2 separate regions of the Homo sapiens genome follow, and region 1 is linked to region 2. Evidence: fine-mapped expression QTL. Tissue or cell type: whole blood. Region 2 holds a variant in brackets; the other region holds the start of a gene. All regions are shown on one strand. Distances are between the middles of the regions.

What was found. PIP is the estimated chance that this variant, and not a neighbour inherited with it, causes the effect.
Region 1: SLC25A37 starts here. The variant in region 2 is fine-mapped to the expression of SLC25A37 in whole blood (INTERVAL, PIP above 0.99).

What each region holds. Positions count from the first base shown.
Region 1 is chr8:23,525,567-23,533,750 of GRCh38, forward strand. It overlaps SLC25A37 (solute carrier family 25 member 37), which reads left to right and starts at 3,390. Exons shown (of 4, transcript NM_016612.4): 1 at 3,390-3,646. The coding sequence starts at 3,437. RefSeq lists enhancers at 3,084-3,133, 4,424-4,493 and silencers at 3,264-3,623, 3,674-3,923.
Region 2 is chr8:23,578,883-23,587,066 of GRCh38, forward strand. No RefSeq gene overlaps it. Among named protein-coding and RNA genes, the nearest start is that of SLC25A37, 54 kb to the left of the region's middle. The variant AC/A (reference allele first, on the strand shown) is at 4,824.

The DNA.
Region 1 (8,184 bases), 53 kb before region 2:
AGAGAGAGCTGCTCCCTTCCTGATGGCAGTGTGGCCCAAGCACTGGGTTATGCTGTCTGGGATGCCACCCTCTCGCAGCATGCCTTCCCTAGAGGTCTGGGAGCTGGACCGGCTGCTGCCTTGTGACATCCGGGATGGCGCCTTCATTACTATGCCCTTTCACTGCTATGCACAAAACCGTGGGGAGGGGTTTAGGCACAGATCCACACTGCCAAACTGGCTTCCCAAGGGACTGGCTACCTCTGCCATGGCCTCAAAGGCAAGGAATCAGAAGGCCACCTACAAAGTCACGGTGCGGGGATCGGGAGGCTGCCACTTATCACTGCTGCACCCCCTCATTCCATAAATACCTCTCAGCATCCATGAATCTGGTGACCAAACACTGCCATGCTGTTGCAGTGGGGAACCCACTGCCCGCCCCAACTGTTCCTGCCTCAAGTGTCTGTGACCTTGCTAGGCAGCAGAAAACACCAAAGAACAGGAAGGGAGCTTCAGCTCATGTTCACTTTCCAGATCTTTCCAATTCATCTATTGCCAGAATATAATTCATGGCTAGACCCTTGGCTGCAAGAAAGTCTGAGAAATGTGGCTTTACATGTTCTGGCCACTGCAGTCCAAGGAGGAGTGCAAGATGCTAAGTGCCAAACCACCATATCTACCATAGGTGGGGAGAAAAAAATATTGAATTCTGTTAAATAATCAATATTCCAAAGATTTTCAACTGTTTCTAACATTTATTTAATGAAATTAAACAAAAATCACGTCTGTGAAGATTATGGGCATATTCACATTTGCTAAGAATTCTCTTAACCATCAAAAGGCAACTTCTTTCCACTGGTATCACCATTGCAAAGTTCAGGGGGTTTCTCATCCATTAGGAGGTGTGTGTGTGTGTGTGTGTGTATATATATATAAAATATATCTTATACATATGTATTATATATAATATAGGTATACATATAATATACATACATATATAACAGGTGTATATATGTACATAGATGTATATATGTATACATAGGTGTATATATCATATATACATAGGTATATATTAAATATGTGTAAAATATATAGACGTGTATATATCTTATATATAAAATATAAAATTTATATAAATTATAAAATATATATAAAATAAAATTTATATAAATTATAAAATATATATAAAATATAAAATATATATAAATATATATAAATATAAAAAATATATAAATATATATAAATATAAAATCTATATAAAATATATAATATAAAATTTATATAAAATATATATAACATAAAATTTATATAAAACATACATAAAATATAAAATTTATATATATAAAATGTACATATTTATACATAAAATGTATATATATTTTATATATACACATGGATATGAATGCTGAGAGGCTAAGTAAAAAAATACATTTATATATACACATATATCTATATATATTTATATACACAAATCAACATATTTTATATATGTACATATGTGTATATTCTATATCCTATCTATATATCTTATACATATGCACATATCTATATTCTATACATATATACTTCTATATATAGATGTGTGTATGTATGTGTAAATATGGTATATATTTCCTAAAAAGAATGGTTTTTTATTTTTAAATTACAGAAATAATAAAAGTATTATTTAAAGTCTGAAAAATAAAGTCAAAGCAGTTGCCTATAAGCCTCCATCACTAGCACAGTAACCATGCGATTCTTTTCCTGAGCACATTTACATCTTTGTGAATGCAATGGTTATAGAATTTCGTTTTGTTTTTTTCACCTAACATTACATTATAATCATCGTCCATGTCGTGTAATGTAAATTCCACTTGTAAAGGCTGCATAATATTTCACTAATATTATGCACACATCATAATTTCCTTAGCCATTCCCTTCTGGTTGACCATTTAGGTTGTTTCCAATGATTTACTGCTCTAAGGAATGCTTTGAAGAAGAGCTTCCTGTGTATTTGGGTTTTTGTTACATTCCCAGAAGTGGGGCAGTGGGTTCTTACAGACTTAATGCTTAAAGGGCATCCACTTAAAAATAAGGATCAACAGCTTCTGATCAGTATTTCTTAAAAACGACCTTTGACAAAAGTAGAGTTTTCTCTAGCCATTACAGAGATGGCTAAGTAAAAACACAGAGCCTGTTTTTACTTATCACATCCTTAGCACTCAGCTTGCCAGCTACTATCTGCAGCTACCAAAACTAGGCAAACAGTGCTCTTGGTCCTGACGCCTCTATTGACCTCTACCCATGCTCACATTACTGTATCTCAAATCCCTAAGAGCTGCTTGGGATGCTGATCACGGTGAGGGCAGAGAGTAGGCTCAGCCTCTTCAGGGTCTTCCCCACCCTTTCATATCTCAGGATCCAGCTTTCCTGACGAGAAGCCTTGTCTAGATAAGGCAGGGAGGCCCTGGTGCCTACAAGTTGATCAGCCCAAGTCATCTTAAGCCCTGGAACACGCAATTTAGACGGACACTTCCAGAGGCAGACAGGTCCCTCCCCTACTTTCTGATTTCTCCCTTTTTCCCCAGACTGGAGCAAAACAATATTAAAACAGCCTGGGTTACACTTTATTGAAGAGGCCAGCTTAGGACGACTTTAAGAACTAGGTGACCACAGTCTTAAGACAGGCAGGGGCAAGGCTGTAAGATTTTACTCTCAGCCAGTTCACACTCCTAACTGTGAGATCAGGCCTCTACAGACCTTATGGGCCTATCAAACCCAAAGAAAATTTCCTGGAGGTGCCTACTCAGAGGGGCTCCCTCCTGGTCACTCCTTATAGCCTTGCTCGGTCCAGGGCAGGGTGGGTTCGGTCTCTCGGTGAGAACAAGAGGAACACATTTAGCTCTGCATTATGTATTTAGGTTGAGAGAAACAATTTCGAATGAATGGGGGTCTCTCCAACAAAGCAGTCTAGAACGGGCCCCTGAGGTTTGAATTCAGGCCTTAGGAATGCCAAAGCTCACTGAGCGATTCTGTTTGCAAACCCACCCGCCACGGGGACGGATTTTCCCCGAGACACTGTCACCCATGCCTCCAGCTCTGGGCATACCCCACTGCGGCCCCTCCCCAATGACCTCCCCTGCCCCTCGCGGACCAGCCCATCCTCAAGATAGTACAACTTTCCGGGCCACCCCACGTCTCCTCTCGCCCCCGTCCGGTTGCTTGGAAATGTGCACGGGACGGTGACGTCACACAGGGAGGCGGGTCCCCACTGTCCCGCACACCAATGGCGCGGCGGCCGCCGGCCTCTTGGTTCCCGGCGATTGGTGTCTCTGGCCGCTGCGCTCCACCCCAGCCCGCCATGGCGTCAGGCGCCGCGGCCCCGGGGAGGTGGCTCCCACTTTAAGAAGTGAAGTTTTGCGCCCCTCCCCCTCCCTGCCCACCTCCTGCAGCCTCCTGCGCCCCGCCGAGCTGGCGGATGGAGCTGCGCAGCGGGAGCGTGGGCAGCCAGGCGGTGGCGCGGAGGATGGATGGGGACAGCCGAGATGGCGGCGGCGGCAAGGACGCCACCGGGTCGGAGGACTACGAGAACCTGCCGACTAGCGCCTCCGTGTCCACCCACATGACAGCAGGAGCGATGGCCGGGATCCTGGAGCACTCGGTCATGTACCCGGTGGACTCGGTGAAGGTGAGGCGCGGGGAGACTTCGGGGACGCAACGAGCGGAGAAGGAGCGCGCGCGCGCATTTGCATCCCGCGCGCCGGCAGCCTCGGGGCAGCGTCCCGAAACCGAGCTCTCCCCAGGACCGCGGCTGGCCGGGGTCGCCCCAGGAGCAGCTGCGCGCAGCCTGGGCGCCGCGCCTTCCGCCGACCCCGCGAGGGTGCCCGGTCCTCGCCCCGCACCGCCCGCTGCTCCAGCCGCGTGCCCGGCCCCGGCTGCTGGCGGCGCTGAGGCGGGGGAGGCGGAGTGGCGAGCACCGCTGGCTTCGGCGGCGACTGGGCTCCCGGGGGACGCGATCGCTGAAGCTCTGCACAGTCTTACCACGCTGGCCGTTCGGGCTGGCTGGGGCCGCCCACACGTGCGCGGTTTCCGAGGGAGCTCCCCGCAGGGGAAGCCCTCACCACGCTGGAGCTGAGAAACGTGTGGCCCTGGCCCGGCCGCGCGCCCTCGGGACTTGGTGTGTGGCTGCTGCTCCCCGGGTTATTTCGGGAACTTGGGGCCGGCAAGTCTTCTCTCGACTAGTGGCAGCTCTTTACCGGTTCGACAGCGGCCCGTGGGATCCCCTTTCTGAGGGTTCCTGCACTTCTTCCCCCGACTTTGGGTCGCCGAGCCGCCGGGAGGCAATGACGTTTGCCTTCTCCTTTTGCTTGCGGGGAGGTGGGTGGGCTTGTGCCTTACAGCCCTTGCTGTGGATTGTGTGAGAGGCACTCAGTTTCCTTTAAACCCTGTCTGTCACTTGCCCCGGTAGTTTTAACTGCATTTCTGTAAAGAGGCAGCGTTACTAGGTGCGTTTTGCCTGGTAGACTGAGACCTGCCCTCTGTCAGCCTGCCCAGAACACCCCAGGGCCAGGATAGAGTAGTGCAGGAAGTAATGCCAGTATTGACTGTTACACGTTGCACTTTTATAGGCATAACTCGCCTAATTCATGCAACAGCCCTGGGGGTTAACAGATGAAGAAACTGAGGCGCAGAGAGGCGAACCGATTACCTTGCCCAGGCTCCTACACCACCTCCTATCCTCTGGCTGCAGCTGCAGTGTGCTTTGGAGGATTCGGAGGCCTCTCTAGGTGGCAATTATTTTGCAAGGCAGGTCCCACAGAGGCACCCCCAGCAGCTTTATCTTGTTGCTGATGCTGGTCCTGCATGAGCAGGTATGAAGGCCAGAAAGTATAACTCAGAGGGTTTTCCCGGCTCCGGGGAGCTCGCTTGGAGCCAGCAGTCAGTGTCTGGACAGGCAGAAGTCCAGTGAGGAAAGACATGGGCTTCCAAGGTGCTGCTGGACCTAAGCCTGAGCCATCACCCATATGTCCCTCCAGTGTCCCAGTGGGGAGTTAGAGGAATGGTTCTCATCTCCAGGAAAGACACTGGACTGATACCAGGTGGCATTTGTATGGGAAAGAATCCCTCAAATGTAATAAAATTCTCCATGATTGAAGCTGTTGTCTCAACTGCCCTGGGCAGAGTCTGGGGAAAGTTAGGAGCAGGGAGGTGTTATCTGAGCAGGCCCTAGTCCTACTGGTGTCTTGAGATGAATGTTCTATTCGGGAACCCCACAGTGAGTTCACTTTAGAGCATCATTTTAGCTTATTTTTAGGATTAGAAATAATTAGTTGTGCCTTCTGAGCACCCTTTGACACTCTCAAGAGGCGTTTCTCACACGTTTAAATTGTGTGATCTGTGTTTAGTTTCTCCCTGCCCCATACATGTTGATATGTTTTGGTTCAGATGTCACCTGTATACTTAGTATTACTTTCCATAGCAGTTTTCACCTGTGGACAGGTTAACATGGTGTGAATGGTAGAAGGAGCCGGTCTGGTTTTCCTAGACAAGTCTGTAAAACAAGGCGTGGGTTAGCTAATCAGTGAAGTCTTCTAGGTTCTGGGATTATAACTGACCCTTAGGGGCCCTTCCATGCTGAAGTGTGCAGGGTTGGTTTTGAGGCTGCCACTGAGTGCCAAGGTCTGCCAACATCAGCACAGTTGTCTGCCAAGCATGAGGAGTCAGGGGTGCATCCTCCATCATGGAAAGGCTTGGGGGAGACCACACCTGTGTTCCTCTTAAGTATTTTGGATGATGGCGAAGACCGGGAGTAACTGAGTCAAGAAACCCGGGTTGGGCTTCAAGCCCTGCTCTCACTTGCTTCATGCCTCGGGCACTGTTCTGTGCCTTAGTTTTGTCACTATAAAGTGGGGACAGTGGACCTGCTCAGTCCCTCTCCACATTTTTAACCCATGCCTCGTTTCTCTGAACACACAACACCCATCGTCCTCTTTTATGTTACTTGAAATATCAAAAGAATTATTACAGCTGAAAACAAATCTATGTAAATCGGATCTTGAAAGAGAGAAAGCTTTCTCCAGTTTTGAAAGGCGCCATTTTTAACTTTGATCTTGTAATGACAAATAAGAATGTTGAATCGGCTGGCTTTTTTCTATCCTAGGTAATGTGGACTGTGGAGCTCTGTGCTGGTCACTTTCAACCCTGAACCTGATGCTACTTATTTTGCAGTTCTAAGTGCAAAGTCGGCCTGGTGGATGCTTCCCATTATAATATTAAATTTGCTTCTTCGTGAGGTCACACCTCACATCCCCAGTGTCACTTTAATAACTAGTGTTTTTTACATGGTGGGCCATGACCCATTAGTGGACTCTGCATTTAAAAATAAATAAATAAATAAAAGAAGTTATTAGTGAGAGTGTAAAAATACGGGTGTGCCTGGCATGCAGTGGGAGAAATGTTGAAATTCTGTTTGGGTTGTGTGTGTGTCTCTGAGTGCATTTTACAGACGTGTACAATGTACTTCTGGCTGGGAGTTGTGGTCAAACAAATATGAAAACCACTGAACCTGAGAAAATATCTCTGGAGCCCCAGCAGGCAACACTGAGATTATGAAATGGGTATTTGGAAGACCTTTGGCAACTTTCCTGCTGCTTCCTGTGTCTTCTTCTTTCCCTTGGTCCTCCCATGGTGGGATGTGAGCACTCATTCATCCATAAAGGGCCAGTCTACTGGGACCTTTGGCTGCCCCTGCGATGACAGTGAGCAGCAAAGTGATACCCAGGGAGGGAGTATAGGGTCTCTGCAGGGCTCTCACCAAATGGTGGCAATGACTTACTCCTGTCTAGGCGGGGTCTGGTGGCAGGTTTTCCATGAGCCTCTTTCTGGTGTTCCAGAGTGGCAAGGGGCACTTGGGGTGGATACAAGAACCCCTGGTCTGATCAGGAGAGCTCAAGACTTGAGGAGCATGCCAGGTGGGTGGAGGAGGAAATTCCAACCAGATTAGGCACACCACTCGGAGACCATGCCGAGTCCCGCCTGGGGAAAGCAGGGGCAGAAGGAAACAGGAAAGATTTGAAGCCGGGGGACTTCCGCTGACCCTTTCACAACCCTTCTTTTGCTTTGCTGTTGGGGGAAACCCTGCCTGTGACTCTCCTAGGATGAGCCCTCCTTCCCAGGTTGGTGCACCACGGAGCGTTCCCTCTAGGAGCCTCCTGGCTGACCTTATGGTGTGCACAGCCAGCCTGCCCAGCTCAGCAGAGCATTACCTCAACTTCTGACTTCTCCTCTTCTGAGTTTTCTCCTGGCTGCAGGCAGACTGGTAGGAAGGGTGCTGGGGGGCAGTGCAGGCAGCTGCCAGAGTCCCCTCCCACCCACTTCATTGCTTTCCAAACAAAGTGCAGTTCGGTCCATGCCATTCAGCTTCAGAAGGGCGTGAAATCCCAAATTGCTCTAGTTCCTGGGACAAAACTATAATGATTTTTCTCTCTCCCTTCTTGTCTCCTCTCCCTCACATCCCCCTGCTCCCTTCTTTTCTCTCCTTTGATGAGAGGTGATTTTCTTAAAAGGCGAATTTGGAACGAGGAATCAAAAAAGGGGTATTTGTGAGCTGCAGTCCTGTTCCTTGTTTCATGAACCCCCAGGCAGCCATGGCCTGTACCCCTCAGGCCTACCCTGAGGAGTGTGAGAACCTCATCCACTTTTCTCTGCCCTAAATTGGGGAGGGGCAGGCTGGAGCGTGGTTTGGAGGCGCGTGCCCAAGAGTACTGTGAACAGCAAAGGGGGCCTCAGCTTTTTAGTAGGGAGAGGTATTTGGGGTTGAATGGGAGGATTTAATCAGCTGCTTTGCTTAAACTATACAGGGGTGTGCACCTGGGGTGGGGGATGTGCGTGTCACCTGGAAGGGAGGAATGTGCTTCCCAAACCTTTTCCTGGCTTCCACTTGGGCACGTTTCAGCTGCATGTGGCCATCTCATTAGAGATGAGTTTTGTCCTGTCTTGCAGCAGTGACCAGTCTTGGGGAATCAGTTCCACTTTCTCTGTTTTTTAGTCTTGGGCTTCTGACTCTCTCTGACTTCAGGGGTTTCCTTCTTCTGACTCATCGGATGAACTCACCTGCTGGTGTGGAAGCCTTCAGCATCTTTCTTGAACCCCAGAGCTTTTTGGCTCTTTTCCTGTCTCCACTAGTACGGAACCTTTTCTTGTCAAAGAATTTGTGTTTTTGTTTTT
Region 2 (8,184 bases):
TCCTGTGGGACATCCAGGTGGAGACCCCCAGAAGGAAATGCAATATTGGTGGTCAGGAGAAAGGCTGGAACTGGAACAAAGGACCTGGCATATAGGCCAAGGGATGTGGTGGCCAAAGCCATGGGCAGAGGAGAGTCCCTAGGGAGAAAAACAATCTCGTGGAAGGCTTACATTTAATAGTGAAGAGAGAAATGGGAACCAGGAGAGGCTGGAGTGGTCAGAGAGTTATGAAGTAACCAAGAGGTGAGGCTTTTACAGAGGAGGGGTAGTAATCAGTTCTACAAGCTTAGGAGTGAAATATAAGCAACCAAAGCTATTAAAAAAAAAAAAACAAAAACCTACATTGTCTCTCCCTGCTCTTGTCTTCTTTGTTCCCGGTTTGTTTTTCCCTGCACTTACTCTCTTGCCTTTTTGGATTCCCTTTTAAATGTCACCTTCACCAAGTTCAGCTGCTTCCACACCTCCCCCTCCCCTGACCCCCTGCACCCAGCACCATTCCTACTGTATCTAGCATAATATTTCAGAGGCTACCTAAAGGCAATAATTAGACAAACACTCAAAACTGCACATCCCAGGCTTGTTCATGAAAGTGAAAAGCTGGAAAACAAACGATATCTATCAAGAAATTAAATGGTTTATAGACAATCCTGGCTGTCCTGGTATTTTTGTAGGAAAGAAATTTCTTTAACGGTCCCCAGCAACATACCATAAGATCTTTATTCCCAATACATTTATCAAATTTAGGATACTTCTGAGCTTCCCCATTTCTCTGGCCTTGCCTCCTAAAGGTAATGTTATTTTGGTAAACATGTGACCTCTCTTTTATGAAGCCATGGATATTACACAATTCCAGACTTCCAGGTTCCTGTTGCCATAGCTTCTTTAAGAAGCTCTTCTTTCCTTATGCTCATACTTACCTATGGTAGCTTTGATGTTTCATTTTCCATAGTAAGTGAGACTCTGGGCAGAGCACCCAGCACTACTGCTAAGAGGACACAAGGGCCACTTTAGCAGAGACAGACAGCCCAACCCCTGTCCACTGTCAGCAGAAACTCGTCTGTGACAAAAAGTATAAATCAAAATCATACCAGTGATGTTTTAGTCTTCAACCTGAAGCAGTTGAAGCTTGGGTGTCGCCTTGGAGTCCTGGTGTATTTCTATTGTTGTGAAGTGCTCTCAGTGTTGAATGGGCACCCGACTGCAACCTCATGAAGCCCAGAGCTGCAGAAAGAGGGACTGTGGACATCTGGCTTCTTCATTATTGTCATGCTGCCCCTTGGGGTGGCTGCCTTTAAGGGAAGAGGGAGTTTAAAAAGAACAAAGGGAGATATGTACCAAGGGTGTTTGTCCTCATCAGTATGTGAGTTCGTGGAAGGAGTTCTTGCTGCCTGCTGAACAGTGAAAATATTCTCTTGATGGACACCTTTAGCTTGGATTGACAGGTGATAAATATATATCCCAAGATTTCTACGTTGAGCCTAATGCAAGCAGCTGGTGAAATATACCAGCACATCCTCAATCTTTCCCTGATTGTGTCTGCATAAAGTTTAGAAATAAATAATGTGTGTATTAGTTCATTCTTGCACTGATGCTATAAAGAAATACCTGAGACTGGTAACTTATAAAGAAAGGAGGTTTAATTGGCTCACGGTTCCACAGGCTGTACAGGGAGCATAGCCAGGGAGGCCTCAGGAAAGCTACAATCGTGGCGAAAGGTAAAGGGGAAGCAGGCTTGTCTTACATGGCCAGAGCAGGTGGAAGAAAGAACGAGGTGGGAGGCACTACACACTTTTAATCAACCAGATCTTGTGATAGCTCACTATCATGAGAACAACACCAAAGGGGAAATCTGCCCCTATGATCCAGTCACCTACCACCAGGCCCCACTTCCAACATTGAGGATTACAATTTAACATGATATTTGGGTGGGAACACAAATCCAAACCATATATATATATATATATATATATTTTTTTTTTTTTTTTTTTGAGATGGAGTCTAACTCTGTTGCCCAGGCGGGAGTGCAGTGGCATGATCTCAGCTCACTGCAACCTCCGTCTCCTGGGTTCAAGTGATTCTCCTGCCTCAGCCTCCCAAGTAGATGGGACTACAGGTGTGTGCCACCACGCCTGGCTAACTTTAGTATTTTTAGTAGAGATGGGGTTTCACCATGTTGGTCAGGCTGGTCTCAAACTCCTGACCTCAAATGATCCGCCCGCCTCGGCCTCCCAAAGTGCTGGGATTATAGGTGTGAGCCACCCCGCCCAGTCCCAAACCATATCAATGTGCAAATTTTAATGTAAATAGTTATGGATATTCATAATGTCTTCTGTCTGTAGCTCTGGGCTTCATGAGACTTTAATGGGCGCTGCTTTCTATTAGCACTTTCAACATTGAGAGTCCTTGACCGCAACAGAAAAACCTGAGGACTCAAGGCCAATGCCCAAGCTTCAGCGGCTTTGGTCTAAGACTACAAAAACATCACCAGCCTGGAAACTGGTAATACCTAAGTGCTAGGAGCTTCCTTGGGTTTTTGCATAGTCTCTAGCACATCCAGTGATCCATTCAGGGTTTCGTGTATATCCATAACAATGGAACTCCATGGTCATTTCACAATCTTTAGGTAGGGTCCAACGTCTGAGGGCAAATTGTCCTGCATGACTCCCTCTCACATTTCCCCTCAAGCTCACAAATGAGTAAAATCTGGATAAATTACACATGAAGGGGGTTATGGTTAACGAGACTGAGAGGCAGTCATACTGGGAAGAGCAGCCAGGAGAAAAGAATGTTCTAGATGGGAAGAATGAACTAAACCCTGGGCCTATTACTCATCATGGTAGAAAAACTTCCTTTACACAGAATGGAACATGAAGTTCTAAGCCTCCTGGTGTTCCAATGAGCTTGGGTTGTCAAGAGCACTCATTTAACAAACGTCCTTAGACTCTTACTGTCACACTTAATCTGATCCAGCTTCCTATCTTGAAGAGATTATTTTTGCTGATTTTGACTTCCATCAAAATCTTTGTTTCTTGATGCTCTCTTGAATGTCCACCTTGGCTTCTATAATTCTTTTGTTTTTAAGATCAGCAAGTTTCTCAAAGCCACATTTGAAAAGCATACAATTACCTTTGAGAGGATTCCAATGCAAGGATAATTTTCTTATTGGTTCATATAATGAAGTGATTTGTTTGCTCTGGTCCATTTTAGCCATTGAGCATATAACAGATGGGTCAGAGGCCTAGATGCTAGTCCTGCAGGTCACTAAACTGGTTGAGTGATCTTGGGTGATGTTGGGTATATCACTTAATCTCTCTGGTCTGCAGTTTCCTCAGCTGCGAAATGAAAGGATTGGGCCAGATGATGTGTAATAATAACTCCTCTAGCTTCTCTAGCCTGTAATAATGTCCACAGAGTACAGGCTCTATCTAGCCTCTAAGTCTATGATTAAAATATGATTACATGCTTTTTAGATGAAATTAGAAGGAAAATCTCACAGGCCTTTTAACTTACCTACCATAAAGAATCATTCATTACCATTTTGCTTTACTTCTTCTCACTTCCCTCTTCCTAAACTACTCTACAAATAAAGACTAAAATCCAGGAACTTGATATAGGAGAATGATGGATGTGACTATTTCACATCCTTTTCTTTAATATGTTTTTAATTACTTGCAAGTAAATAATTTATTTGCCTATATATCTTTCTGAACTCTGTGTGGGGACTGTTGGTCTCTGGTACAGTCCAAGCCCTCCAGCCTAGTGCTTGAAACAAAATGGGTCTTGTTTGCCAGCAGCTCATGGAATGTGATGCCCTTATTTTCCCACAGTCTGTTACTATAGGAAGGCACATTGTATATTCTCCATGTTTTTTTTTTTTTTTTTTTTTTTTTTGAGATGGAGTCTCATTCTATTGCCAGGCTGGAGTGCAGTGGCGCAGTCTCAGCTCACTGCAACCTCCGCCTCCTGGGTTCAAGCGATTCTCCTGCCTCAACCTCCTGAGTAGCTGGGACTGCAGGTGCGTGCCACCACGCCCAGCTAATTTTTGTATTTTTAGTAGAGAGGGGGTTTCACCATGTTGGCCAGGATGGTCTCGATCTCTTGACCTTGTGATCCACCTGCCTTGGACTCCAAAGGTGCTGGGATTACAGGCGTGAGCCAGTGTGCCTGGCCTCCATGATGTTTTTTATTGTAGGGTCTATATGTCTAAAACTTTTTTAAAAAATAGACTTTATTTTGTTAGAGCAGTTTTGAGTTCACAGAAAAACTGATAGGCAGATACTAGATTTTTTCCATAACGCATTCCCATGTACGCATTATCCCCCCACTGGCAACATCCCTCATCGGACCGATGCATTTGTTATAACTGATGAACCTATATTGACACATCGTTATCACTCTGAGTCCATGGTTTCCATTAGGGTTCATTCTTGGTGGTGTACATTTTATGTATTTGGACAAATATATAATGGCTTGTATCCATCACTGTACTATCATTCAGAATAGTTTCACTGTACTAAAAATCCTCTGCAGTCTGTTTATTCTTTCCTCCTTCCCGGTAGCCCTTGGCAACTGCTGATCATTTTATTGTTTCTATTGTTTGGCCTTTTCCAGACTGTCAGGTAGTTGGAAACATACAAAGTATGTAGTCTTTTCAGATTAGCTTCTTTAACTTAGTAACATGCATTTAAAATTCTTCCATGTCCTTTCATGTCTTGATAGCTTATTTCTTTTTGTTGTTGAATAATGTTCCCTGGTCTGGATGTACTCCATGTATTCATTCACCTACTGAAGGACATCTTGGTTGCTTTCAAGTTTTGGCAATT[AC/A]AAATGAAGCTGCTATAAACATCCATGTGTAGCTCCTGTGTGAGCATAGATTTTCAACTCCTTTGGGAAATGCTAAGGAGGGCAATTGCTGGATCTTAGGTAACAGTCTGCTTAGCTTTGTAAGAAACTGCCGGGCTGGGTGCGGTGGTTCACGCCTGTAATCCTAGCACTTTGGGAGGCCAAGGCAGGCAAATTGCCTGAGCCGATGAGTTTGAGACCAGCCTAGGCAACATGGCCAAACCCCGTCTCTATTAAAAATATAAAAAATTATCTGGGTGTGGTGGTGCACGCCTGTAATCTCGGCTACTTGGGAGGCTGAGGCATGAGAATCACTTGAACCCGGGAGGCAGAGGTTGCAGTGAGCCAAGATCATGCCACTGCACTCCAGCCTGGGTAACAGAGCGAGACTTTGTCTCAAAAAAAAAATAAAAAAATAAAAAACCTGCCAAAACTGTCTTTCAAAATGACTGTGTCATTTTGTTTTCCCATCAACAGCAAATGGGAGTTCCTGTTGTTCCACATCCTCATCAGCACTGGGTGTCATCAGTGTTCTGGATTGTGGCCATCTAATAGGTTTTTACTGGGATCTCATTCTATTTGTATTTCCCTGAGGACATATGATGTGCAGCGTCTGTTCATATGTGTATTTGCCACATGTACATCTTCATGGTGAGGTGTCTGCTAAGGTCTTCGGCCCATTTTTTAATTAGGTTGTTTGTTTTCTTATTGTTGAGTTTTAAAGATTCTTTGTATATTTTGGATAGTAGTCCTTTATCAAATATGTTTTTGCAAATATTTTCTCCCAGTCTATGGCTTGGGTTTTCATTCTCTTAACAGTGTCTTTTGCAGAACAGAAATTTTTATTTTAATAAAGTCCATCTTATCATTTCTTTCTTGGATCCTGCCTTTGGTTTTTATCTAAAAAGGCATTGCCAACCCCAAGGTCGTCTACATTTTCTTCTATGTCATCTTCTAGGAATGTTGTAGTTTCTCATATTACATTTAGGACTGCAATCCATTTTGAGTTAATTTTTGTAAAGGGCATAAGGTCTGTGACTAGATTCATTTTTTTTTTTTTTTTGCTTGTGGATGTCCAGTTGTTCCAGCACCACTTGTTGAAAGCACTACTTGTTTCTATTGTATTGCCTTTGCTCCTTTGTCTGAGATCAGTTGGCTATAGAGTCATACCTCAAAGATATGGCAGATTTGATTCCAGGCCACCATAATAAAGCAAATATTGCAATAAAGTGAGTCAAACAATTTTTTGCTTTCCCAGTACATATAAAAGTTATATTTATACTATACTGCAGTCTATTAAGTGTACAATAGCCTTACGTCTAAAAAACAATGTACACCCCTTAATTTAAAATATTTTATTGCTAAAAGTGTTAGTGATCATCTGAGTCTTCAGGGAGTCACAATATTTTTGGAGGTGGAAAGTCTTGCTTTCATACCGACGGCTGCTGACTAATCAGGGTGGCGGTTGCTGAAGACTGGGACTGTCGTGTCAATTTCTAAAAAAAAAATAAAAAAAGACAACAATAGAGTTTGCTGCATCAATTGACTCTTCCTTTCATGAAAGATTTCTCTGTAGTAGGCAATGCTGTTTGATAGCGTTTACCCACAAGTAGAACTTCTTTCACAATTGGGGCCAGTTCTCTCAAATCCTGCTGCTGCCTTATCAACTAAGTTTGTGTAAGATATCTAAATTCTTTGTTTTTATTTCAACAATGTTCATAGCATCTTTAACAGGAGTAGATTATTCCATCTCAAGAAACCACTTCCTTTGCTCATCCATAAGAAGCAACTTCTTGGTCGGGCATGGTGGCTCACGCCTGTAATCCCAGCACTTTGGGAGGCTGAGGTGGGTGGATCACGAGGTCAGGAGATGGAGACCCGTCCTGGCTAACATGGTGAAACCCCTTCTCTACTAAAAATACAAAAAATTAGCCGGGTGTGATGGCACGTGCCTGTAGTCCCAGCTACTCAGGAGGCTGAGGCAGGAGAATCGCTTGAACCTGTGAAGTGGAGGTTGCAGTGAGCCAAGATCACACCATTGCACTCCAGCCTGGGTGACAGAGCGAGACTCCGTCTGAAAAACAAAAACAACAACAAAAAAAACTAGAAGCAACTTCTCATCCAGTAAAGTTTTATCATGAAGTTGCAGCAATTCAGTTACATCTTTAGGCTTCACTTCTAATTCTAGTTCTCTTGCTGTTTCCACTATATCTTCAGTGATTTCCTCCACTGAAATCTTGAACCCCTGAAGGTCATCCCTGAGAATGGAATCAACTTCTTCCAAACTCTTGTTCATATTGACACTTCAAAATCTTTTCATGAATCCTAAATGTTCTCAGTGGTATCTAGAATGGCGAATCCTTTCCAGAAGGCTTTCAATTTACTTTGCCCAGATCCATCAGAGGAATTACTATCTATAGCAGTTATAGCCTTATGAAATGTATTTCTTAAATAATAAGACTTGAAAATTGAAATTACTCCTTAACCCATGGGCTGCAGAATGGATGTTGTATTAGCAGGCGTAAAATATTAATATCCTTGTACACCTCCATCAGAGCTTTTGGGTGACTAGGCGCATTGTCAATGAGTAGTAATAGTTTGAAATAAATCTTTTTTTCCTGAGCAGTAGATCTCAACAGTGGGCTTAATACCTTCAGTAAACCATGCTATAAACAGATGTGCTATCATCCAGGCTTTGTTGTCCCATTTATAGAGCACAGGCAGAGTAGATTTAGCATAATTCTTACGGACCCTAGAATTTTTGAAATCATAAATGAGCATTGACTTCAACTTAAAGACACCAGCTGCGTTAGCTCCTAACAAGAAAGTCAGGCTGTCTTTTGAAGGCTTTGAAGGCAGGCATTGACTCTCCTCTATAGCTTTAAAAGTCCTAGATGGCATCTTCCAAAAGAAGGCTGTTTCATCTACATTGAAAATCTGCTGTTTAGTGTAGCAACCTTCATCAATTATCTTAGCTAGATCTTCTGGATAGCTTGCTGCAGCTTCTACAACAGCACTGGTTGCTTTATCTTGCCCTTTTATGTTATGAAGATGGCTTCTTCTCTAAACCCAGGAACCAACGTCTGCTAGCTTTAAGCTTTTCTTCTGCAGCTTCCTCACAATTTTAAGACTTCATAGAGTGGAAGATACTTACAGCCTTGCTCTGAATTAAGCTTTGATTTATGGGAATGGTGTTGCTGGTTTGATCTATCCAGACCACTAAAACTTTCTTCATATCAGCAATAAGGCTGTTTGCTTTCTTATCATTTGTGTGTTCACTTGAACAGCACTTTAAATTTCCTTCAAGAACTTTTCCTTTGCATTCACATCTTGGCTAACTGT